Linked DNA regions of Homo sapiens. The protein of the gene in region 1 purifies or fractionates together with the protein of each later gene. This does not show direct contact. Each region holds a gene or a part of one and is shown in the gene's direction. Other genes may lie near its edges.

What was found.
Region 2: the proteins of TMEM87A (region 1) and PC purify together in Homo sapiens (affinity purification with mass spectrometry; one large-scale study listed by BioGRID and IntAct). This does not show direct contact.
Region 3: the proteins of TMEM87A (region 1) and ARSK purify together in Homo sapiens (affinity purification with mass spectrometry; one large-scale study listed by BioGRID and IntAct). This does not show direct contact.
Region 4: the proteins of TMEM87A (region 1) and GNPTG purify together in Homo sapiens (co-immunoprecipitation; one large-scale study listed by IntAct). This does not show direct contact.
Region 5: the proteins of TMEM87A (region 1) and LOXL2 purify together in Homo sapiens (affinity purification with mass spectrometry; one large-scale study listed by BioGRID and IntAct). This does not show direct contact.
Region 6: the proteins of TMEM87A (region 1) and OAF purify together in Homo sapiens (affinity purification with mass spectrometry; one large-scale study listed by BioGRID and IntAct). This does not show direct contact.
Region 7: the proteins of TMEM87A (region 1) and TLL2 purify together in Homo sapiens (affinity purification with mass spectrometry; one large-scale study listed by BioGRID and IntAct). This does not show direct contact.

What each region holds. Positions count from the first base shown.
Region 1 is NC_000015.10:42,266,934-42,270,433, reverse strand, and holds part of TMEM87A (transmembrane protein 87A isoform 1 precursor), read left to right. Parts: intron 1-2,401; coding exon 2,402-2,487; intron 2,488-3,500. UniProt on the Homo sapiens protein: Potential monoatomic ion channel gated by mechanical force, implicated in normal touch sensitivity through the generation of mechanically activated currents.
Region 2 is NC_000011.10:66,864,384-66,867,883, reverse strand, and holds part of PC (pyruvate carboxylase, mitochondrial precursor), read left to right. Parts: intron 1-1,534; coding exon 1,535-1,697; intron 1,698-3,500. UniProt on the Homo sapiens protein: Pyruvate carboxylase catalyzes a 2-step reaction, involving the ATP-dependent carboxylation of the covalently attached biotin in the first step and the transfer of the carboxyl group to pyruvate in the second.
Region 3 is NC_000005.10:95,600,101-95,602,851, forward strand, and holds part of ARSK (arylsulfatase K precursor), read left to right. Parts: intron 1-746; coding exon 747-971; intron 972-2,751. UniProt on the Homo sapiens protein: Catalyzes the hydrolysis of pseudosubstrates such as p-nitrocatechol sulfate and p-nitrophenyl sulfate. Catalyzes the hydrolysis of the 2-sulfate groups of the 2-O-sulfo-D-glucuronate residues of chondroitin sulfate, heparin and heparitin sulfate.
Region 4 is NC_000016.10:1,358,431-1,361,930, forward strand, and holds part of GNPTG (N-acetylglucosamine-1-phosphotransferase subunit gamma precursor), read left to right. Parts: intron 1-3,312; coding exon 3,313-3,367; intron 3,368-3,441; coding exon 3,442-3,500. UniProt on the Homo sapiens protein: Non-catalytic subunit of the N-acetylglucosamine-1-phosphotransferase complex, an enzyme that catalyzes the formation of mannose 6-phosphate (M6P) markers on high mannose type oligosaccharides in the Golgi apparatus.
Region 5 is NC_000008.11:23,366,121-23,369,620, reverse strand, and holds part of LOXL2 (lysyl oxidase homolog 2 precursor), read left to right. Parts: intron 1-1,186; 5' UTR 1,187-1,269; coding exon 1,270-1,624; intron 1,625-3,495; exon of another isoform or gene 3,496-3,500. UniProt on the Homo sapiens protein: Mediates the post-translational oxidative deamination of lysine residues on target proteins leading to the formation of deaminated lysine (allysine).
Region 6 is NC_000011.10:120,221,032-120,224,531, forward strand, and holds part of OAF (out at first protein homolog precursor), read left to right. Parts: intron 1-3,500.
Region 7 is NC_000010.11:96,395,427-96,398,926, reverse strand, and holds part of TLL2 (tolloid-like protein 2 precursor), read left to right. Parts: intron 1-1,624; coding exon 1,625-1,741; intron 1,742-2,906; coding exon 2,907-3,052; intron 3,053-3,500. UniProt on the Homo sapiens protein: Protease which specifically processes pro-lysyl oxidase. Required for the embryonic development. Predominant protease, which in the development, influences dorsal-ventral patterning and skeletogenesis.

The sequences.
Region 1 (3,500 bases):
GAAGTGTTTATATTTCATTGTTTTTGGAGGATTTGAGGCACTTTATTTTTTGTTGTTGTTTTTTGAGACGGAGTTTTGCTGTGACGCCCAGGCTGGAATGCAGTGGCACGATCTCGGCTCACTGTAACCTCTGCTTCCTGGGTTCAAGCGATTCTTCTGCCTCAGCCTCCCGAGTAGCTGGGACTATAGGCGCGTGCCACCACGCCGGCTAATTTTTGTATTTTTAGCAGAGGTGGGGGTTTCACCATATTGGCCAGGCTGGTCTCGAACTCCCGACCTCAAGTTATCTGCCTGCCTTGGCCTCCCACAGTTCTGGGATTACAGGTGTGAGCCACCGTGCCCGGCCTGAGACACTTTAACATTATCTTTTTCTTTGTTATTTCTGTGCTTTCTCATATTTACCAGTTGTCTTTGATTTTGTACTTTTTGGGGGATGGTATATAGCTTTCCATGGAATAGCTGGGACCATTTTTTTTTTTTTTTTTTTTTTTGAGACGGAGTCTCGCTCTGTCGCCCAGGCCGGACTGCGGATTGCAGTGGCGCAATCTCGGCTCACTGCAAGCTCCGCTTCCCAGGTTCACGCCATTCTCCTGCCTCAGCCTCCCGAGTAGCTGGGACTACAGGCGCCCGCCACCGCGCCCGGCTAATTTTTTGTATTTTTAGTAGAGACGGGGTTTCACCTTGTTAGCCAGGATGGTCTCGATCTCCTGACCTCATGATCCACCCGCCTCGGCCTCCCAAAGTGCTGGGATTACAGGCGTGAGCCACCGCGCCCGACCTTATTGTCTCTTAAAGCCTTTCATTTAAAGTTCTAAATATTGTCTTGTAACATAAACAGCAGTATTTTTGCTGCCAAATTTCCTTACAAGTCTCCTGTTTGGGGGATGTGTTCTTACTGGCTTTTTATTAGTTAATCCTGTCCCTGTATGGATTATTTTGAATAGTTCATAGCCCAATTGCTTTTTATCATTTCCATAAATTCTATCCAACAGGTCAAATTTTTGAACATTCTAATAGAGTCCTTTGAAAATGTGTTGGTCATCTAAAAATTAGTTTGAGAAAACAGTTTAAAAGAAAAAAAAAGGAAGCTTATAATTAGGTTGCTTCTTTTGTTATGAATGAAAAGTAGATTCCTAAATGCAGTCATGTTTATTTTTGTCATGTTTATTATTACATTTATATAAAGTAGGGAGTCTTTAGTATATTTTTCCTTTCATAGCTAGAATCAAAGATAAAAGCGAATACTGACTTCCTCCAGCTAATCAGTCATATAGTCAGATTTACCCTCCCAAGTCTTCAGAATAATGTCTTGATCCATTAGAATACTGTGTTCCAAACTGTGTTTAATGAGCTTTATGAAGCTTCCATGATAACATGAGCTTCCTTGAGGCCTCTTTTAAGGTAGGCTTTGAAAAAAAAAATCTGATACTCTTATCTTTGCTTTTGCTATTTCTACCTTCCACAGCCATGTTTGCTTTTCGTTCATTGCTCTTTCTGTTCTATCTTGATATCTTTCAAGGTCTGAGATAGCAATTTTGCTCTCAGTGGAACTATTATGTATATCATCATTTAACACCATTTAACAGTTGTTAATATTGCCTTGTGACATGCATTCCTAATTTTATTATTGCTTGTCTCTTCAACTAGCCTTTTGAAGGGTCTTAATAATTTGTTTCCACTCGTTTCCCTCTTTAGCCTAACAGTGTGCCATTATACCTTTGTAATACTTGTGCTATTTATTTATTTATTTATTTATTTATGTTTTTTGAGACAGGGTCTCGCTCTGTCGCCCAGGCTGGAGTGCAGTGGTACCATCATGGCTCACTGCAGACTTGACCTCCTGGGCTCAAGTGATCCTCCTGCCTCCCTTGCCTGAGTAGCTGGGACTACAAGCATGTACCACCACGCCTAGCTTTTTAATCATTTTTTGTAGAGATGAGTTCTCACTATGTTGCCTAGGGTGGTCTTGAGCTCCTGGGCTCAAGCGATCCCCCTGCCTTGGCCTCCCAAACTTCTGGGGTTATAGGTGTGAGCTACCGCACCTAGCCTGCTCAATAAATACTTAAATAATAGAAGACTGGCTTGAATTTAGAGTGCTTTATCACTCCCAGGTTTTTCTCAATAGAGATCCAGAAGTTAGGACTTTATGGCATAAAAATAGATCCACAGTTTCCAGAGGTTAAAAACTGCTTACCTGCTATTTTTCTATGAACAACAATACTTTTATCTTAATATCCAGCTCTTTTTGCATGTATTATTTCAATACCTTATGTTTGGAGAAAGGATGGTCTTTGAGTATCTCAGTTTAGGGTACGAAATGAATAGGATATAGGTTAACAGCTTAGGAAAAATGCTTTGTTGGGGAATTATCTTTTGTTAACAAAGATTTCTTCTTTTGTAGTTGATGGAGAACCTTGTGACCTGTCTTTGAATATAACCTGGTATCTGAAAAGCGCTGATTGTTACAATGAAATCTATAACTTCAAGGTAAGGAACATAAAATTACAGAGTTTTTTTGGACCTTAGTGATTATCTGGTTCCAGTCTCTTAATTTCATAGAGGAAAGAGTATCATGTAGCTATGGAGGAGGAGAGCTGAAACTAGAATGCATGCTTCCCAATTTGCAGACCACCAATTCTCAAACTTTTTGGTTTCAGAACTCTTATATTTGTAAAAATTATTGTGGACTCCAGAAAGCCTTTGAGCATGTGGGTTATGCTATTAGAAATTACAACTGAGAAAATATAAAAATATTTATTAGTTTATTTTAAAGTAGCAATAATAAACTTATTGCATGTTAATATAAATAACTGTTTTTCCCAGAAAACCACACAGAAGAGTAGGATTGTTTTGTATTTTTGTAAATTTGTTTACTATCTGGCATAACAGAAGATCACTGTATTCTTATATTCCCTCCTTCACTCAGTCTGTTGCAATAATTTGGCTTAAGTACATGTAGAAAATAATGACCTCATACAGATATATAGTTGGGAAAAGGAATGGTATTTTAATGGCCTTTTCAGATAACTGAGGATATTCTTTTTTGATTCTATACCAAAACTCAACAAGTGGAAGTTTTTAAAGGTTAGTTGCAATGTGGAATCTGAAATATTAATGAACTTTTTTTGTACTCTGATAAGAAATCCACTGATATGAATGTATCTTTTACCTGTGTGTGATCTTGTAGCATCATTTATTGGTCATTTAGAAAATAGCAGTTGACTGAATTATATACATTTTTATAAATATTAACTCATTTCACACTTAGCTAAAAATTACATTGTTTATAACTATACCCTGCCCTCTTCATCTCATCAGTAGGTTCTTAAGTTTTGGAAGCCGTTAAATTCAGTGTAGCAGATACAAGTTCTTCAAAATTCCAGTTTTTGCTTGAAATCTCAAATTTTATTTTGGCAGTGAATACTGTCAGTTGTCTTCCTTGAGGGGACAGCCTCTGTTGCCCATTTCCAGAGAAATAACTCTCAAATAACCAAGTCTGA
Region 2 (3,500 bases), on another chromosome or scaffold:
GGGGTGGCTGCTGTGGCTCGCCGGGGGCATGGAGGCCCCTCCCTCCCCTTAGGAGAAGCTTAGAGACAAGGCCAACACTTTGGCCGAGTGAGACTCTTCCCCTCAAGCTGCTGTGAACTCCTCGGTCTTGGGTCTGCTTAGAGCGTCCTGTTAGGGATGGGAGTCTGTCTGCTGTGGAGCACGGGTTTTGTGTCAGACAGATTGGGGCTCAGGTGCTCTCAGGTCCCAAGCCACGTGGAGCCTGGGTGAGCTCCAACCTCTCTGACCCTCGAGCTCCTCCTCTGGTGGGAATGACAGGGCTCTCAGCACACCGTCGTGGAGATGAAGCATGGGAGGAGTGCAGCCTGGCCTGTGGCACTGAGTGGAAGCTGTCATCTCTGCTGCGAAGTGGGCCAGCAGGCAGCAAGAACACGGGGAAATCCTGCCAGTGTAGGTTCCAGGCTGCCTTCACCACAAGCCTCAGTGGCAATACATGTAAAACCTTGAGTGGTTTTTTTTAAGACATAGTCTTGCTCTGTCACCCAGGCTGGAGTGCAGTGGTGCAATCTTTGCTCACTGCAACTTCTGCCTCCCGGGTTCAAGTGATTCTCCTGCCTCAGCCTCCTGAGTAGCTGGGATTACAGGCACACACTACCAGGCCTGGCTAATTTTTGTATTTTTAGTAGAGACAGGGTTTCACCATGTTGGCCAGGCTAGTCTCGAACTCCTGGCCTCGTGGGATTCACCCACTTTGGCCTCCCAAAGTGCTGGGATTACAGGCATGACCTGCTGTGCCCAGCCTGGTTTTTTTGTTTGTTTGTTTTGTTTTTTAAACAGCTGTTCCACTTGGACTTGTGACTGCCCTTAGGAGCAGTAAGGCTGAGCTTGGAAAACCCTGCAGAGGTGGGGAAGCTTGCACTCTCCAAGCATCTCTAGGGGGTTTTGGGCACAAGTCCAGCAGGAAAACAGGCCTCAGAAGGACAGGTCCTGACCCAGCACCCACTGTGCAACCCTCTCACAGCTGTGGTTACCATTTCGAGGAGCCCAGCCTTCACAGCACCTGTTCCCTTGCACACTGCCCCCCTCACAACCACCCACACAGCATAGCACATATGGCCCCAAGAATGTGCTATCCTGGCCCTCTGACCTAGAGATCTGCTGAGGCTTCAAATCTAGGCTTTACCAAGGGGGAGTTTAGGGGAGTGGGGAAAACAGACCTCAAGGAAGGAGGAGGCAGAGTACAGGGAGGAGCAGCTTAGGGCTGTGTGGACGGCACCGTGAGTCAGGAATGCAGGAGCAGGTGGTCCTGGTATTTCAGCGGGCCATCTCCAGCTGCCAGGCACTGTGTAGTTTAGTCGGCTCCCGGCGGGAGCAGGGCAGGGGCTGGTGGAGCCACTGGTTGGGAGGAACCGGCTGTTCAGGCTGGCCCAGAGCCTATGGGCAGGAGTCGCACTGTGTGTGGACGCCCCACTGGCTGCGGTGCCCCTCGTCTATCCCCCGCCTCATGTTTCCCCCTTTCTCCCGTCCTTTCCCCCCTCCCCCCAATGCCCTACAGCGTAGACCTGGTCCATGCTCAGATCCACGTGGCTGAGGGCAGGAGCCTACCCGACCTGGGCCTGCGGCAGGAGAACATCCGCATCAACGGGTGTGCCATCCAGTGCCGGGTCACCACCGAGGACCCCGCGCGCAGCTTCCAGCCGGACACCGGCCGCATTGAGGTGGGCGGAGCTCGAGCAGAGGGAGATGCCAGCTCACCTGTGCACAGGTTCTGCCTGGTGCCTGGGGCTGCAGTGCCAAGTTGCCACAGCCCGGCAGTTAGGGAGGACCCGCATGTGGGCTCTGAAGTGGACATAGAGTACACGGAGGCAGGCAGTGCCCAGAGGAGGGGCGGCGCCTCCCAGGGGAAGAGACTGCTGGGCGCCCAGGTCAGGAGGAAGCCGTGAGGGTGGGAGCGGGGAGCAGGCTGGCTTGGTGGAGCAAAACGCAGGGACCCAGACACAAAGCCAGCCCCTGACCCTCCAGCTCCCACAGGAGCCCCACGCCTGGCTGCCGACGGAGCCCAAGCACCACCTCCCATCTGAGGGATGGGCTGACATGGCAGGACCTGGGGGTGGGGGTGGCAAAGGACTGGGCCCAGAGGTCCCAATGGAGTCTGAGCCAAGCTCAGGGGCCCATCAAGGATGGGGGAGGGAGTCGGAGATGGCGGCACAGGAGGGAGACCGAGAGGTAGATTCGGGGCCGCGAGATGGCAGCCTTGGTGGGGGAGAGAGTGGTGTAGGGGGCGCTGAGGCGGTCCACGGCAGGCTCCTCAGCACAGCAAGACTCGCGCCTTCTCCAGGAGGGCTCCCTGTACCTTTCTTCCTCTCAGCACCGGGACCCAGTCATTGGCCTCCGAAACCCATCTCCCCCGCCTCTGGTCCCAGCTGTGGGCAGGAGCCCTGCGGCCTGCTCGGTGCCTGTTCCCAGCCCTGCACGTGCTGCCAGCACCGTGCCAGCTGTGCTAGGGACTTGCTCCCTATCCAGGGGCCTGAGCCCCAAAGGAGGCAAGACATTGATGGAGCTCCAGCTTTGCTCCAGAGTCCAAGGCAGAGGCCCCCGGGCTTGTGTGGGGCGGTGAGGGGAGCAAACATGAGTTTGGGCCAGGCTCTGGGCTTCTGAGACAAGGGAGGCTGGGGAGGCTGGGGGTAGGGACCAGAGCTCTCTGGATTCTGGAAGCAGCAGAGCCTGTGGCTTCAGCAGGGAGCTGGCCACCTGCCTTCTGTTTCTGGAAGAGTCTGTAGGTGGCGGCAGCCCCAGGCTGAGTGCTGCCCGGCGGCCCCTGACTTCTCTGCCTCCCTCCATCCCCACTTCCAAGCCCTGGCTCTTCAGAGCCTGCCTCATCACAGAGTATTTTTAGCCGACAGTTTCTGCTCTCAGCTGAGTGTTCACCCTTAAATATTTTATGAAGTTCCTTTTTATTGAACACAGGCCTCTGCCCCCGAGAAGCGGAAATGGGCAGTGGGTGTCCCGAGCCCCTCTGGGCGGTCCCCCCACTCCCCTTCTTCCTTACCTGGGCCTGACGGGTCCCCCACCTCCGGGGAGCCCTTCTCTGCGGGGCTCACTCGGGCGGCACGAACAGGTGCAGGCGGCACGAGCCACCTGTGTGTGTGAGTGTCGGCGCCTCTGTCTCCTCCTCTCCGCTGCCCCTCCCATTGCCGTCTGGCCCTGGCCCTGTCCCGCTGCCCCGCTGCCCTCTCCTCGCCCTTGGTTTGCTTCCCTGATGGGTGTGGACCCTGCCTCTGGCACTTTCCCTTCATTTCCTCTCCCACTTCCTCCTCGTTGCCTCCTCTCCCTCCCATCCTCCCTTCTGGAAGGAAAGGAAAGGAAAGGAAGGGAGCATGGGTGGATGTTGAGGCCTTCCCCACCACCCTGTTAAAAACAAAAACAAACCCCCGGTCAGCCTTGCCTCTTGCCTCGCACATGGTCCTTTGGAGGCCCTGTCGCCGGCCTGCCGTCCCCTCGCTGTCTGGGAGCCCACGGCG
Region 3 (2,751 bases), on another chromosome or scaffold:
GAACATTTCTCATGCTGTTGTTCTATATGTCTACATTTGGTAAGTTAAAAATTATTTTTCCCTTCCTAAATATAATCCACAATTCCTGAAAGCATGTTTTTCAAGATGCTAGTCCCTCAAGATGCTACTTGAGAATGTAAAAAGCTCTGTTATCACATAACTTTGGGGCACATAGTATACTATATACCACTCCTGAAGGTTTATCATATACATCAGCAATAAATTTACATCTACAACAAACTTATGTATTTAATTTTGTTTAACCATTGTTTTGCAAACATATAAGACTACTAAACCCCTTTCTTGTATAAGACTTGTTAATATCCCATGAAAGAAACTTTGAGAAACAACTATGATTATTTAATCATTTAGAGAAAAAAGGAATAGTGATATTAACTATTTGTTGAAGGCTCCTATCTGCCAGGCATTGTCCTCAGAGTTCTTAGAATTTTACATAAAGTATCTTATTTAAACCTAAAATGAACCTAATAAATACAAGTACTGTGGTCATCCCCTTCTTACAGATGAGAAAACTGAGGTTGAGATAAGTAAATTACTTGCTGAAGTCCACATGGCCAGTGGGGTAAGCATGTGAATTTTGGCAGCCTGTTTACAAAATCCATATACAATCTCCAGTCTCCATGGCATTTAATGGTATGAAAAAAATGTGAATGATGCTATTTGTGAATGTTCAGCTAATAAAAGAATGAGCTATTTTAAGATATTTGGTTATTTTTGTTACATAGATATTGCTGGAATTCCTCTGCCTCAGAACCTGAGTGGATACTCTTTGTTGCCGTTATCATCAGAAACATTTAAGAATGAACATAAAGTCAAAAACCTGCATCCACCCTGGATTCTGAGTGAATTCCATGGATGTAATGTGAATGCCTCCACCTACATGCTTCGAACTAACCACTGGAAATATATAGCCTATTCGGATGGTGCATCAATATTGCCTCAACTCTTTGGTAAGTTTGTTAATATATTTTTAAGTGTAATATTATGTGTAATGAACTGCCCTATGTAGCATTGCTCAAGATATCCAATAATCCTTGTTAAATAAATGAATATCTGCTGCTTCTCATGCTAGGACGATCTACAAAAGGTTGCCCATGTGAGGAACAGCCTCTTTGCAGATCAGCAGCTGAATTTCAGAGAAAGTGTCCTAAGGCTTTTGATCTGGGTCTCATGACTGAAACCAGTTTTCTCTGATCAGGGCATCTTTCAGTACTCATGGTTATCTTTCCCAATTTGAAGTCAACACCTCATTGTACCTCATTGTTCTGAAGGATTAACACCTATCTTATGAAGCCTGACATTTTACATGTATTATTTAATGTTCACCACAACCCCACAAGATAGTACCATTATCCTCATTTTACAGAGGAGTCTATGAGAGAAATTTGGATACCTGTGTGAGGTCTCACAGCTAAGAAGTAGCAGAACTGAGATTTCAACGAAGCTGTGACTGTAAAATTGATGCTTCTTACAGCTTCTAAAAAATGTCTGCCAGCTTCACTACTCTATGAATTAATTTTTAAGCAGCATTTTTAGATTCAGGGTTTTACTCATCCTTTGTCCCCATTTAGTACATAAAATATGTGCTAAAGCCATAAGTAATATTTATTTCTCCCTAAGGCTCCTTCCCAGTTACAAATAGCAAAATTATTATCAAAATAATACTTTGGGGGCCAAACTGGCCAACCCCCTTCACTTGAAGAGTGGAGGATTCTTGGCTGAAAAAGGAAGTCTTTACATTTTCATCCTGATGAGTAATGGGCATCTCTTGCTTGTTCATTGGCCATTGTCAAATGAAATTTATGGGAGGCCATTGTTTTGAACTGAGTTCCTACACCAGGCTCAACAGACCACATCAAACCAGAATGGGGTCACTGGCAGTAGGTGCCCCATAATCAAACTGAACTTTAGAAGAAAAAAAAAAGAGAATCACAATAACCAATCCGAAGGGGCTCATTTTACCTGAACCAGCATAAGGAAGTCTCCTCTGTTTTTACTGGACAAAGAAAGTAACACTATAATGACGAATCTGCTTTTTGTTCCATGTTTCTGGGACTTTTTCATCAGCCTTTTTCTGCCTATAAAGCCCACCTCCCCTGCTCAGCTCATCAGAATGCCTTTTCTAAATCTTTAGAGGGGTTGCTGCCCAATTCAGGAATCACTAAATAAAAGCCAATTTGTTCTTTAAATTTGTTGAAATTTTGTTTTTTATACCATGTTCTACCAAAAAACTGATGTGACTATCAAAATGTCAGAAGTGGGGAATCAGCCTTTTCTGTACTTTTTAGGGCTTATTGATTTCCCTTTCCTAAAGATGTACCATCTGGAAATTACCTAGCAAAGTCACATATCTCTTCAGGGGCCTCTTGGCTACTGCACTTAAGTAGGCCCATAGAGGTTTTTCCCTCAACATACAGTGTTCATTTACTATCTGAAGTTAATTGTCATAAGATCTCTGACTTGCTGTTCTTCCAGTTAGATTGGTATACTAGTTATATCCCTGTCTTCCCATACCATATCTAAAAAGTATCTTTATGGATCTGAAATATTTATCATTATTTTCTTGCTGGCAGTGATTGAGAAGTTTGTATTTCCATGGCTGTTTGTTCAAATGGACAGTACTGATGAATGTAACTTTCAAAACTCCAAGCATAAGATACTAATATATAAAGAAAACTAGGACTAAGTAAAGTTGCAGGAACATGACTTGTCTATATAAAGAATTTGTAG
Region 4 (3,500 bases), on another chromosome or scaffold:
GGAGGCTCTCAGTGCTTCCTTTTTATATGGCTGAGGACTGTTCCACTGCAAGGACAGACCACGTTGTTGTTTACCCGTCATCTGTCCATGGACACTGGAGTGGCTTCCACCCTCTGCCTGGGAATAGGCTGCTGTGAACTTGGGTGTAAATATTTGAGTCTCTGCTTCCAATTTCTGAGAGTAGCTTTGCTGGATCTTATTAGAATTCCATGTTTAGCTTTTTGAGGAACCACCAAACTGTTTGCATAGTGGCTGCACCGTTTCCCATTCCAGCCAGCATTGCACGAGGGGTCCAGTTTCTCCACATTTTCACCAACACTGTTTTTTGCTAACAGCCATCCTAGTGGGTGTGAAGCGGTACCTTAGGGTTGTTTTAATTTGCATTTCCCTAATGATCAGTCATGTGGGATCTTTTCAGTTGCTTATGGTGTTTGTCCTTTTTTTTTTTTGAGATGGAGTCTCACTCTGTGGCCCAGACTGGAGTACAGTGGCGCCATCTTGGCTCACTGCAAGCTCTGCCTCCCAGGCTCAGGCGATTCTCCTGCCTCAGCCTCTCAAGTAGCTGGGATTACAGGCGTGAGCCACCACACCTGGCTCATTTTTATTTAGTAGAGACGGGGTTTCACCATGTTGGCCAGGCTGGTCTCAAACTCCTGACCTCATGATCCGCCTGCCTCGGCCTCCCGAAGTGCTGGGATTCCCGGCTTCTCTGCCCATTTTTAACTTGAGTTTATTGTTGGGCTGTAGTTCTGTGTTCTGGATGTGAGTCTCTTACATACGTGGTTTGCCAGTGTTTATTTTCTCCCATTCTGTGGGTTGTCTTTTCACTCCCTTGATGGGTTTGTTTTTTTTTCCATATAGAGTCTAACTCTGTAGCCCAGGCTGGAGTGCAGTAGCACGATCTTGGCTCACGGCAACCTCTCCACCTCCCAGGCTCAAGGAATTCTCCTGCCTCAGCCTCCCGAGTAGCTGGGACTGCAGGCATCCGCCATCACGCCTGGCTAATTTTTTTGTACTTTATTAGAGATCAGGTTTCACCATGTTGGCCAGGATGGTCTCGATCTCCTGACTTCGTGATCCGTCTGCCTCGGCCTCCCAAAGCACTGGGATTACAGGCGTGAGACCCTGCGCCCGGCCTCTATGCCAGTCTTTATGCCAGTATCACACTGTTTTGATCATAACAGCTTTGAAGTAATTTTTGGAATCAGTATGTACGAGTCTCTCAACTCTGTCTTTAAGATTTGTTCGATGATTTGGGGTCCTCTGAGACTCCCTATGAACTTTAGGATGTGTTTTTCTATTTCTGCAAAAACTGTCATTGGGGTTTTGATGGGGTTGCATTGAATCTGCAGATCACTCTGGGTGGTATTGTCATCTTAAAAATATTGAATCCATCAGGCTGGGCGCTGGGGCTCACGCCTGTAATCCCAGTACTTTAGGAGGCTGAGGCAGGTGGATCACCTGAGGTCAGGAGTTTGAGACCATCCTGGCCAACATGGAGAAACCCCGTCTCTACAAAAATACAAAAATTAGCCAGCCGTGATGGCAGGCACCGGTAATCCTAGCTACTGGGGAGACTGAGGCGGGAAAATCGGTTGAACCCAGTGGTGGAGATTGTAGTGAGCCAAGATCGTGCCACTGCAATCCAGCCTGGCGACAATGCTAGACTCCGTCTCAAAAAAAAAAAAGTGGCGTATGGATGTCTCATGTCAGCTTTATGTAGTGGGTGGCACTGTTTGTGCGTGGATAATTGTGGTGTCTTGGCACATTGACCCTTTTATCAATGTATAACATCTTTGTCTCTTAAAATAGTTTCAGCCACTTCAGCTCTCTTTTGCCTGTTTATATGAATACTTTTCCATACCTTCACTTTCAACCTGTTTATGTCTTTAAATCTGAAGTTAGTCTTTCAGGCCGGGCATAGTGGCTCACACCTGTAATCCCAGCACTTGGGAGGCCAAGGTGGACGGATCACTTCAGGTCCACAGTTGCAGACCAGCCTGGCCAACACAGTGAAACCCCGCCTCTGCTGAAGATACAAAAATTAGCTGGGCGTGGTGGCGGGCACGTGGGATCCCAGCTACTCGGGAGGCTGAGGCAGGGGAATCACTTGAACCCAGGAGGCGGAGGTTGCAGTGAGCCGAGATCGCGCCACTGCATTTCACCTTGGGTGACAGAGTGAGACTGTCTCCAAAAGAAAAAAAAGAATCTAATGCCTGATGAGCTGAGGTGGAACAGTTTCATCCCCAAACCACCCATCCCCACCCCCGGCTGGTAGAAAAACTGCCTTCCATGAAACCAGTCCCTGGTGCCAAAAAGATTGGGGACCACTGGTTTAAGTCCTGTAGCTTTACAGACCATAGCTAGAAAGGCAACTGGTATTAATTCACCCTGCACGAGGACCTCCGTCTGCCTCCGCTGAGCTGCTGTCTGCTCACTTCCCCGGGTGGCACACCGGCCTGCATGTAACCAACTCCTGAAGCTTTTATCTGGGAATGTCCTCTTTTTTGGGGGGTGGGGAAGACAGGGTCTTGCTCTGTCACGCAGGCTGGAGTGCAGTGGTACGATCTCAGCTCACTGCACTCTCCACCTCCTGGGTTCAAGAGATTCTCCTGCCTCAGCCTCCTGAGTAGCTGGGATTACAGGTGCGCGCCACTACACTCAGCTCATTTTTTCTGTGTGCTTTTTGTGTAGACACGGGGTTCTCACAGTGTTGCCCAGGCTGGTGTCATACTCCTGGCCTCAAGCAATCTTCCCGCCTTGGCCTCCCAAAGTGCTGGGATTACAGGCATGAGCCACGATAGCAAGCCTTAACTCTAATTTTTGAAGGGCTATTTTTAGAATTCTCGGTTTTGTCAGTTTCTTCCATTGAATGGTACCTGTTTTCCTGTTTCTTTGAACGTCTTGTGCTTTTTGTTGAAAACTGGTCCTTGGCCGGGCGCGGTGGCTCAAACCTGTAATCCCAGCACTTTGGGAGGCCGAGGTGGGTGGATCACGAGGTCAGGAGATCGAGACCATCCTGGCTAACGCGGTGAAACCCCGTCTCTACTAAAAATACAAAAAATTAGCCGGGCATGGTGGCGGGCGCCTGTAGTCCCAGCTACTTGGGAGGCTGAGGCAGGAGAATGGCGTGAACATGGGAGGCGGAGCTTGAAGTGAGCCAAGATCATGCCACTGCACTCCAGCCTGGGTGACAGAGTGAGACTCCATCTCAAAAAAAAAGAAAACTGGTCCTTTGAAAACAGACTCTGCCAGTCTTTGCAGACAGGTTCTGTGCTTGGACCCTGGGGATCAGTGTGAGGTCTCTTCCAGGACCCGTGCATCTCTTCCGACTCTCGGGCAAGTGCTTCAGCCTGGTGGAGTCCACGTGAGTGCAGGGTGGGTGCGAGGGTGGGCTGGGGCGCAGCCTGCGGACCCCCCTCATGCCATCTGTGTCCCCAGGTACAAGTATGAGTTCTGCCCGTTCCACAACGTGACCCAGCACGAGCAGACCTTCCGCT
Region 5 (3,500 bases), on another chromosome or scaffold:
TGGTCACCCAACAGACATGGAACTGCCTCACTCCAAGGCAGATCATCCCTCCATGGGCAGCTCTGGACAGCTCTGACTACAGGAAAGTTAGCCAGTCCTTCCTCAAAGGTAGTGTGCCATGACCAGAAGAATATGATTAGCCTACTCCTCTGCATAGGGTTAAAATAAAATACCTTATGCCCCCACCTAAGCTTCCACCTGCTCATCCTGGTTTGGGGCCCTGCATGTTTCTCCACAAGACACACGTGTGCTCCTTTTAAAATCGTCTCCTCTTTTCTCTGAATTACGGGAGGACCAAGATACACGAGGTCTCTTGCTACATGATTTCACTCGGGAATTCTTAGAGGTAGGCTCCACCAGATACGATGACCAGGACCTTGAGGATTTTAAAACTCATTTAGCATTGCAGCCCTCAAAGCTGACGGGAAAATTATAATTCATCTAGCAAATGTTCCTGTAGTGTTTTGGGGTGCCATTCATTTAATGGAGGGTGGGTGTGTTGAACATCCTGCCCTCACCCCTTCAGACCCGCTCCTTCTCCACCGGCCCCCATGTTCCAGGAGGCTGTCCCACACGGGCTCCCTCAATGGGCTCAGCTCCCTTGCCAGTGGCTTCGAGTTGAAGGGGGCTGGGTTTGCCTAATAGGAGGCACCAGAATGATTCAAAGACGGGAGGAAAGGGAGTCAGGTATTTATTCTCCCTCCCATGTCCCCGCCGTTGCCATGGGTTGGCTCTGAGACCCTCCAGTGAGGGCCACAGCTCCTAAGAGACAGCTCCCTCTGCCAGTCTCCAGTTCTCACCCCCGCAGGCTCCCTTCAAGCCTAGGGTGGTCACAGCCCCCTCTGAGTCGCCAGCCCTAGGGTGTGACACCGGCCTTTGTTAGTTCTGCAGAACTCTGCCGGCATGTCCGTAGTCTTAAAAAACTCTCCTTAAATTAAGTTGGAGTGTGTTCTGTTCCCTGCCAGGAACTCTACTGGAAAAAGCATTCTAGAGAGATGACAAGGCAGTAGGTAAAGGAGGTGGGACCTCCCAGCCCTGCATGGTGGAAATGTAGGAGTGGGGCTGGATTGGCGTCGAGAATGGACGAGCTTTCCATATTAAGCCAAGGGGTATGAAATCGCTGGTTCTCTATGTAGGTCTCCGTAGCCCCACGTTCCCATCCTAACGCATCTCTCCTCTCTTCCAGAAAGCTCCTGCTGCTTCTGTACCCCGCCTGTCCCTCCCAGCTGCGCAGGGCCCCTTCGTGGGATCATCAGCCCGAAGACAGGGATGGAGAGGCCTCTGTGCTCCCACCTCTGCAGCTGCCTGGCTATGCTGGCCCTCCTGTCCCCCCTGAGCCTGGCACAGTATGACAGCTGGCCCCATTACCCCGAGTACTTCCAGCAACCGGCTCCTGAGTATCACCAGCCCCAGGCCCCCGCCAACGTGGCCAAGATTCAGCTGCGCCTGGCTGGGCAGAAGAGGAAGCACAGCGAGGGCCGGGTGGAGGTGTACTATGATGGCCAGTGGGGCACCGTGTGCGATGACGACTTCTCCATCCACGCTGCCCACGTCGTCTGCCGGGAGCTGGGCTACGTGGAGGCCAAGTCCTGGACTGCCAGCTCCTCCTACGGCAAGGGAGAAGGTAAACGCTCTGTGCTTTGGATCTGAGTGCTGTCACCTGGCAAGGCCCGGAGTGGCCTTCCCTGAGGTCAGCCTGGGAGAGGAGGCTGCACGCACTGCGAAGTGTAAATTCTTGGTGATGCCCATCCAGGGACTGGCATCCTTCTGTGCCCACTCAGGCTGCACCCTGCAGGAAGGCGGGGTCGGGGGGCTTGAGGAGGGGCACAGTAAGTGACCAACCATACTGATTTGCCCAAGACTTTCCTGGCTTTAGCACAGAAAGTCTCACATCCTGGGAAAACCTCAGGAAAACCAGGACAGTTGGTGACCCCAGGTAGGGGGTGAAATCGGCCTGTGCTCCTCTCTCCGCCCCATATGCCCTGCCTGGGGGCTGCGTCAGCCCAGAGGAAGTTGCGCTTTACTCCAAATCGTTCCCTGTTAGGAAAGCCTCTTGCTCTTCCTCACAATGGCTCCCACATGCTGGAGCTCCCTGACGCCCCCCACCTTCCTGGCATGTGGAGTTCATCGTTTTCACACTAACCTGCTATTGTGGGCTTGGTCACAATAGGCACACAGATGCTTTGGGTTTTTCACCGTTGGTTAGCCTATTCTTTCCTCCCTTGTGAGGTTCAAATTTATTAGTTTATTTTTAAAAATTGTTTTAAGAGCTGGCCAGGCGCAGTGGCTCATACCTGTAATCCCAGCACTTTGGGAGACGGAGGCGGGATGATCACTTGAGGTCAGGAGTTCGAGACCAGCCTGGCCAACATGGGGAAACCCCATCTCTACTAAAAATACAAAAATTAGCCGGGCATGGTGGCGAGTGTCTGTAGTCCCAGCTACTCAGGAGGCTAAGGCACAAAAATCGCTTGAACCCGGGAGGCGGAGGCTGCAGTGAGCCGTGATCGCGCCACTGCACTCCAGCCTGGGTGACAGAGCGAGACTCCATCTCAAAAAAACAAAAAACAAAACAAAAACCCAAAAAATTGCTTTAACAGCTTTGAGGCAGGACAAAGTTTGAAGCCCTGAACCTAGAGCTCAGTCTGTACTGACCTCTGACACCACACTTTGTAGGAAGACGCATGTCCTCTCCAGCCTCATTTTCCCCATCTGGAAGTTGGGCTAAGAACCCCTGAAACCCTGACAGTGTATGTTCCCAAATAGGAAAGAGATAAGGGTGGAGGGAATTGTTTCTTTTTAAACATTTTTCCAGGAGCTAAGAGTTTCCTATCTCTGGGTCAGCCAGGCAAAGGAAGCTCCCACACCCTCCCGCCCGGCTGAGCTGCAGCCCAGACCTCAGCACAAGTCTGGCTACTGGACTAAAGCAGAGCTGCCTATACTCCTGTCCTGGACTAAAGGGCTAATGCCATGCTGACTGCGTAAGAATCGCCCAAGGGAGCTTAAAAGTACAGAATAGCGCAGACCTCAACCCACCATAATCTAGTTTAAAAGGTCTGGGCTGGAGCCCAGGACTCTGTCTCTTTTGGAAGTCTGCAAAGTGACAGGTTTGGGAGTCATTGAAATTGATAACTGTTATCCTCCCTTCCAACTTTTCTGTTATTCTAGAAATTATAGGAGAAAGGAAGTCCCATCTCATACACATCTCACCTCCATGCAATTGAAAATTTCCTTTTGGGGTAACTGGATCAGGAGACAGCACAGAGTCAAATGTTCTCTGCAGCTTGCTCTGGGCGATGAGAGCCACAGCAGTGAAGTTAGCAAATGCTGGGCTTTAGAACCCACTTCCTGTCTTCTTTAAACAAACGTCCGATACTTCCACATCTCTGTTTATCCGGCTGGCTGAGCGATCCAGGGGTAACCTCAGATTCATGTTTTCCATTCCAGGCTTTCCAACGCTCATTATTTTATAACAAATGCTTTCCAGTGACTGGGTATTT
Region 6 (3,500 bases), on another chromosome or scaffold:
CCCTCACTGTGCGAAGTCTTCCCTCCCTCATGCCACCCCCAGCCCCAACCTTAAGGGGACAACGAGCACTCCCTCATCCACCCTTTACCTCCATTGCACTTGGAGTAAACCTCAATCCTAGGCCTATTGTTTGCTGACTTGAGTTGTCAGAAGTCAGCCTCCTCCACCATCCCCTGGAAAACAGGAATCTGTGTCTTGGCCAAGGCCACTCCCCTGCCCAGGTGTTTGTGAAGGCCCTGCCCCATGTCCTGCTAATCAGTGCTCTCCCACTGATTGGCTGATTACTTGCAAGCCCCAGAGGAGTCACCTGACCTGTCTAGGCCATAGGTACATCTAGAAGAGAACAATCTCAACTCCTGGGTCTTCAGGAGTGGAGTAGATTTCAGGTGGAGCAAGGCAGACATAGAGCCAGGAATTGCAGCCACAAGAGAGAAACTGAAAGTTCAGCCCACTGTGTTCTGAAACCTTTCACTCATTTATTCCCTGCAACAGTCCCTTGAGGTAGATACTATCATTTTATTCAGCTTGCCAATGTGGAAACTATGGTACAGAGAGGTTAAGTAAATCCCTTCAAGGTTATGTGGCCAGCAGAGGCAAAGCCAGGATCTGAACATGGGTAACACTGGCTCCAGAGCCTTTGTTCTTAAATTCTGTGCTATCCTAGAGCCTACCTACTCCTTACTTAAAACTACAGACGAGGACCCTAGCAAACACTATTTCCCCAGGGTACTTGCCACACCCTCTGCGTGGCCCAGATCCTGGCCCTGGATGTAGTATGCTCCAGTTCTTCCAGGTAGGCTGGAGATTCCTGGAAGCTTGTGGGAGAAGGAGCCTTATAACAACCTCCCGTCTTGGGGACCCTATCCTGGGTCCTGAGCCTCAGGAGCCTGCCTGCAGTCCCTGTTGTAGGCTCTTCCCCAGCTAAGCATCTGCTTTAGGTGTTAGGCCACATGAAGTACGTCATCCCAACAGATTCCTGGGCAAGGAGGAAGGCTGGGAGTCAGGCTTCCATCTGGCCTGGGCTTAGCATCTGAGGGGACTTTCACCCTTCCCTGTGAAGGTTGGAAGAAGAGGGGGCCCCAGAACCTTGCCAGGGAGTCTGAGGTGCAAGGAGTGGAAAGCGGGAGGGACACTGGTCAGGATGATGGAGTCCTGTTACCAAATAGACCCAGAAAGTAGGGCTGCCCACTCCTTCTCAGGGATCAGCAAGTGGAATGTGCTTTTCTGGGGAAATAGGACGAAAGGGCCGGGCGCAGTGGCTCACACCTGTAATCCCAGCACTTTGGGAGGCCAAGGCAGGCGGATCACCTGAGGTCAGGAGTTCGATACCAGCCTGGGCAACCTGGTGAAACCCAGTCTTTACAAAATACAAAAATTAGCCGGGCATGGTGGCACATGCCTGTAATCCCAGCTACTCCAGAGGCTGAGGCCGGAGAATTGCTTGAGCCTGGGAGGCGGAAGTTGCAGTGAGCCGAGATTGCACCACTGCACTCCAGCCTGGGTGACGGAATAAGACTCGGTCTCCAAAAGAAAAAAAAAAAAACAACCATGCACACAAAGGAGAGACCGGAGAATTTGTAGTTTAAAAAGTCCTGGCAGAGGCCGGGTGCAGTGGCTCACGCCTGTAATCCCAACACTTTGGGAGGCCGAGGCAGGCAGATCACAAGCTTAGGAGATCAAGACCATCCTGGCCAACATGGAGAAACCCTGTCTCTACTAAAAATACAAAAATTAGCTGGGTGTGGTGGCCCATGCCTGTAGTCCCAGCTACTCAGGAGGCTGAGGCAGGAGAATCGCTTGAACCCGGTAGGTGGAGGTTGCAGTGAGCCGAGATCGCGCCATTGCACTCCACCCTGGTGACAGAGTGAGACTCTGTCTCAAAAAACAAAACAAAACAAAAAACAAAAAAAGAAGTCCTGGCAGGGCAGGCAGGCGGGTTAGAAGGGTATTCCTGCCTCCTCTTCTCTTATTTGTGTCATGCTGTTTGGTAGTTGCAGGAACCACGAGCCAGAGCCGCCACATTCGAAGGCAGGTGTGCTGACTTAAGGCAGGCTGCCGCCAGATGGGCATGATGGGGAGCGGGTCCTAATCCCACCTCTGCTGCTGGCCAGCTCAGGCATCAAGGGCAGACCGCACAACCTCTGTGTGCCCGAGTTCCAGCTTCTTTAGCTGAGCATCAAGGAGATGAGACTAGCTGATCCAGGAGGCAATTATGGATTCTGGTTAAGAGAGCTCAGGCTTTGAAGTCAGACTGTCTGGATTAAGATCCTGGCTATGTTTCCTCTTAGTCCATGACGTTGAACAGGTTACCTAATCCAAGCTCGGTAACAATCATAGCTCCTACCGCCTGTTGTAAGGATTTTAAAAAGGATCATACATCCTTTTGACCCATGGAAACAATGTTTTTTCTCTTCTAGTTACAAATTTCAGTAACTCTTTTTCCTATACAAATAGGAGATACAGAGGAAATCCTCTCAGTGAGAAATTATCATTCCCTTCCTGCACCCCCTGTCAGTTCCCATTTTGACAGCATTTTGTTATTGTCATTGATGACATTATTAATATAGAAGCAGGAAAAAAGCTCAAATAGATTTCTTTCATCCTCTAGTCTGGTCTGAAAGTTCAAATACCTTCTTTTGCCAACGGTAGTCAGGTGATGTCACCAAGCAAAGAGACCCCTGAGCAGCCCTGAGACTTCCGGATATTTCCTGCACCTGCGGTATTGGAGAAGATGCTGTGAATATCCAGATAGGCTTCTCTCCAAAGAGTCAGAGCTGAAAATACCAGGGAAGTGGTTTTTGGATCCTTCCTGGGGGATCCTGCCAGGGACATGGCCTGGCTCAAGCTCTAGCAGGGGAAGTCTGGTATCAAGTCTCACCTGGCAGGAATTGAGCCCAGAATGGAATATGCTACAGGCAGAGCAGCCTCCCATCTCTCCTCAGCCGACCTGAGTGAGGGGAAGATCAGATAGCCCAGGCTGGCAGGACAAGGAGATTGCAGCACCATGACCAAGAAGGGATTTCCTGTTGAGAGGAAGCAGGGGTTGGCTGAGCTCTGATCACCTTCTTCACAAATCTCTGGGATCATAAGGAACCTAATGGAACCTTCCTCAACAGCTGAGCCTCAGTTTCCCTTTCTGGAAAACCTCCCCCTATACTTCCATACCTCATCGTTCCAGAGATGATTTACAATAATGGCAAGTAAGAGAAACTCTGTAGAGTTAAAGGACTGCAGAAATACATGGGCATTTATGAGATGACATGCACTCGTTTGTTGCAGACCACCTACGATGCTTGCTGGTCACCTACAAGAGTAATCCCAGCTAGCGCTGACCCCATGTGAGAATCTTCAGATAACTTACTTAGTCCTCACCACAACCCTGTCACATAACTGGGATCATCCCCATTTTACACATCAGAGAAATTAGGGGAAAGCCTGGAGGACTCACTAATACATTGCAGCTTCGGGGCGGAGCTGTGAGTCCCTTGCCGCATGTATTG
Region 7 (3,500 bases), on another chromosome or scaffold:
GTGTTCCAGCCTGGGTGACAGAGCAAGACTCTGTCTCAAAAAAAAAAAAAAAAAAAAAGAATATTTTCATCACTCCAAAAGAAGACCCATATTCATTAGCAGCCACTTCCCATTCCCCATTGCCCCCCAAAGCTAAATACATTCTCCAAGTGACTCATGCAATAGGTGCTTGGTAGAACCATGGTCTTCCAGTCCAAATAGACCGTGGCTGGCCTGTGTTCTGAACCATTCAGTAAAGATGAACCCATCTCCCACCTCGCCCTGGGCTGCCATCCTGACGTGGCAGTAGGGATTAGATGGCCAAGAATGACCAGGTACTGGGAAGACCAGGCCTCTGTGGAGGCTCCAGATTTCAGACCATGCACCCAAGTGTCTAAGAAAATACAAATGTATTAATTTTTTTTCTCGATAACAAAAGTTTGTCTATGATGATCCCCCTTTCCATCAGGTAGTAGGGACTTGATTTTGGTCAATTTGTGTTTTCAGTTTTGGTCAATTTGTATGTCCTGGTTGGGGGCATAGTTTATGCCAAGGCATGGTGGTGGCGGGGGGCATCTATCCTGCCACCCTGACTGGCATTGCTGGGATGTTCTCATCCCTAACCAATGAGTCCTCTATCCAGATACAGGCTACTGGGCTTCCTCCTTTTATCAACCCTAGGCCAGTTCAGAATGGTGCAGGTCTACATTCCCCTAGAAGCTTGGGAGACATTCTATGGCTCCCCTAATCCTCTCAGCTGTGGGAAAGTCACTTCCATCCCCCTCTTGGGCCTGGAATCATGTTGCTGCCATCCTGCCACACTTTGCCTGAAGAGCTCTGCATGCCTGTCTCAGGGCCAAATGTCTGGACAATCACATAGACACTTCTATGCTGACCTTGGCGGGTGGGCACAACAGGGGAATCCAGGGTCTTGCTGCCACTCTGGACTCTGCCCAAGGACTGAGGACACAGTTTTCTGCTTCTCTTAGATTCTTAAACCTACCTGGGATCTCTTTCTCAAGGTGAGATGGGGAATGGGTCCTTTTAGGGGCTCCCTGCTGCTCTCCCGCTAGTCCTGTCACTCCTCCATCCTAGGAACCCTCCTACGGCTACCAGGATGGGGAAAATATGGTGCATCCTTCCAAATCTTTGCTATTGCAACTAGGCTTGTGAAATGTAAACGCCAAGATGGTTTTATTTCTTTGCTGTGTTTTCCCTGGCATCCCTTCCCAAGTCAAGGAAAGCAGATGTCTAATGCCCCCAAAAGGGAAGGGTATACATGCAACAGGAAACACCAGGAAAGGAAATCTGCTCTATTCTCTCACCATTCTTCCCCTGCCTCACCTTCAGAGCCTCAGCAACACCCCTCGGCAGGGGAGAGGCTGCCTGGGCTCTTCTCTGGATACTTTGATGGGAATTTGGAATTCTCCTGAAGTCAGCCTGAAAAAGAATTAAGTCACACATTATTGTGTGACTCTTCCAATCCCATCTTTTGATCCTGTGTGTGCTACAGGATAAGTTGTCCCAGCCAGGGTTATTGCTCACTTCAAACCACGTGTGAAGAACCTCAGCTTCCTCCTAGCCTGAAGCCAGTGCCTTCTTGCTGTCCCCAGGGCTCCTAACTGCTTCTTTTTCCACTTTCCAGGCAGGTTTTGTGGCGATAAGATCCCGGAGCCCCTCGTCTCCACGGACAGCCGGCTCTGGGTGGAGTTCCGCAGCAGCAGCAACATCTTGGGCAAGGGCTTCTTTGCAGCGTACGAAGGTTTGTGCGAGGTGAAAGCAGCTGCTCGGTGGCCCCTCATAAGCTCTGTCCTTCCCAGGCAGCCCACTGTCCCTCTCCCAGCCCAGACACTCCAGGCCAGAGCCACAGGGGTGGGGGCAGCCACCACAGGGGGCAAGCTGAGGATTCCACAGCCCCTCCTGCAACATTCTGGAAGCAGAGGCCAGCTGTGCCCACTTCAGAAGTAGTGCCATCCTTCTGACGCCATCCCACTCAACCCTCATTCCAGGCCAGCTGAGGAGTCGGCTTCCCCCATACAGGACGGTATTGGGGGGATCTAGAACCCTGTGGAAATGATAGCAGCCTCTGAATTGCTGTGTGAGCCTAAGCAAAGAATCTGACCTCTCTAGGCCTCTGTTTGTTTCCTTTGTGAAAAGAAGACTTTGGGCAACATCAAGGAATTTCCAACTGCGTTTCTTAGAAGGGCCTCTGAGGCTACCCTGGTGGCTGAGTAGAGGGAACCAATAGGTCTGGGCTCTAGGCAGCTGCCACCAGGTGATGGTGCTTCTATTTCTTCTATGTCTTGAGCTTCTCTGGCTCATTCCCCACCCCACCGTACCCTCTACCAAAAAAAAAAAAAAAAAAAGAAAGGGGAAAACTACCAGAAAATTACCAAGGGTCCTTTGGCCTTACATTACCAAGGGTCCTTCGGCCTTAAATTATTACAATTTTAGAGAGGCCAAAGTTTTGTCTTTGTAAAATAAGTAATGTGCATGTGTGCGCATGTGTGCACGTGTGCGCGCACGGGTCCTTTCCTACCAGCGGTCCTGTACTCTCTACCTTGAATCACCTGGGGAACTTCACGGCTACGCAGCGCTCCCCAACACCCACTGGAATCAGAACCTCTGGGGAGTGTGGCCCCAGCTTCCACAGTTTGCAAACTCCCTCAGGCGATTTTGATGCACAGCGAAGTTAGAGAACCACTGCTTTATGTGGTTTTTTCTTTATATGAAAAAAATTCAGAGTTAAAGACAAATGCAATCGTGCCTTTCTGGAGGCGCGGTGTTTGTGGGCTGGAGATGAAAATGTTGGTGAGCGGAGCCACCTAGTGGTGGCAAGCGCTGTTCCCCCCGCCTCCCCAACCTTCCTTCCTAAGTAAGATCTGACCAGGGCCCCCGTCTTCCTCTCCTGATGTCTCTTTCTAAAGCTACCTGCGGGGGAGACATGAACAAAGATGCCGGTCAGATTCAATCTCCCAACTATCCGGATGACTACAGACCTTCCAAGGAATGTGTCTGGAGGATTACGGTTTCAGAGGGGTTTCACGTGGGACTTACCTTCCAAGCTTTTGAGGTGAGTGCTGCTCAGACCGGCTTCCCAAGGAAACGGCAACTTTTGCTAGACATCCTCCACTCTGTAAAGATGGGTTTTCATTTTTGGCTAAAAACAGGAACCTAAGAGGCTATTCTCAAGCCCATAGTGAATTGTGCCCGGACATCTGACATCAACATCTATGCAGGCTTTGAAATGGGGTTTGACACCTTTCTGAGGGCAGTAAGAGAGGTTGAGAATAATAATCAAAGTGAAAATTCAGGATGGGATCCAGGGAAGTTTGGTAGAATTGTTCTTCTCTATTTATCCTCTTAGACTCTTCTCAGTTTGATTCACCCTTGACTTCTGCAAGTAAGGAGTGAACTAGGAAGCAGCATGGAGAGACCTGGGACACACTTGGGTCCTTTGGCCTCTTGGTTAGATTTTGAGAGTGATATTTGGGTTCTCTTCTTAAATCAAAAACCTTAAA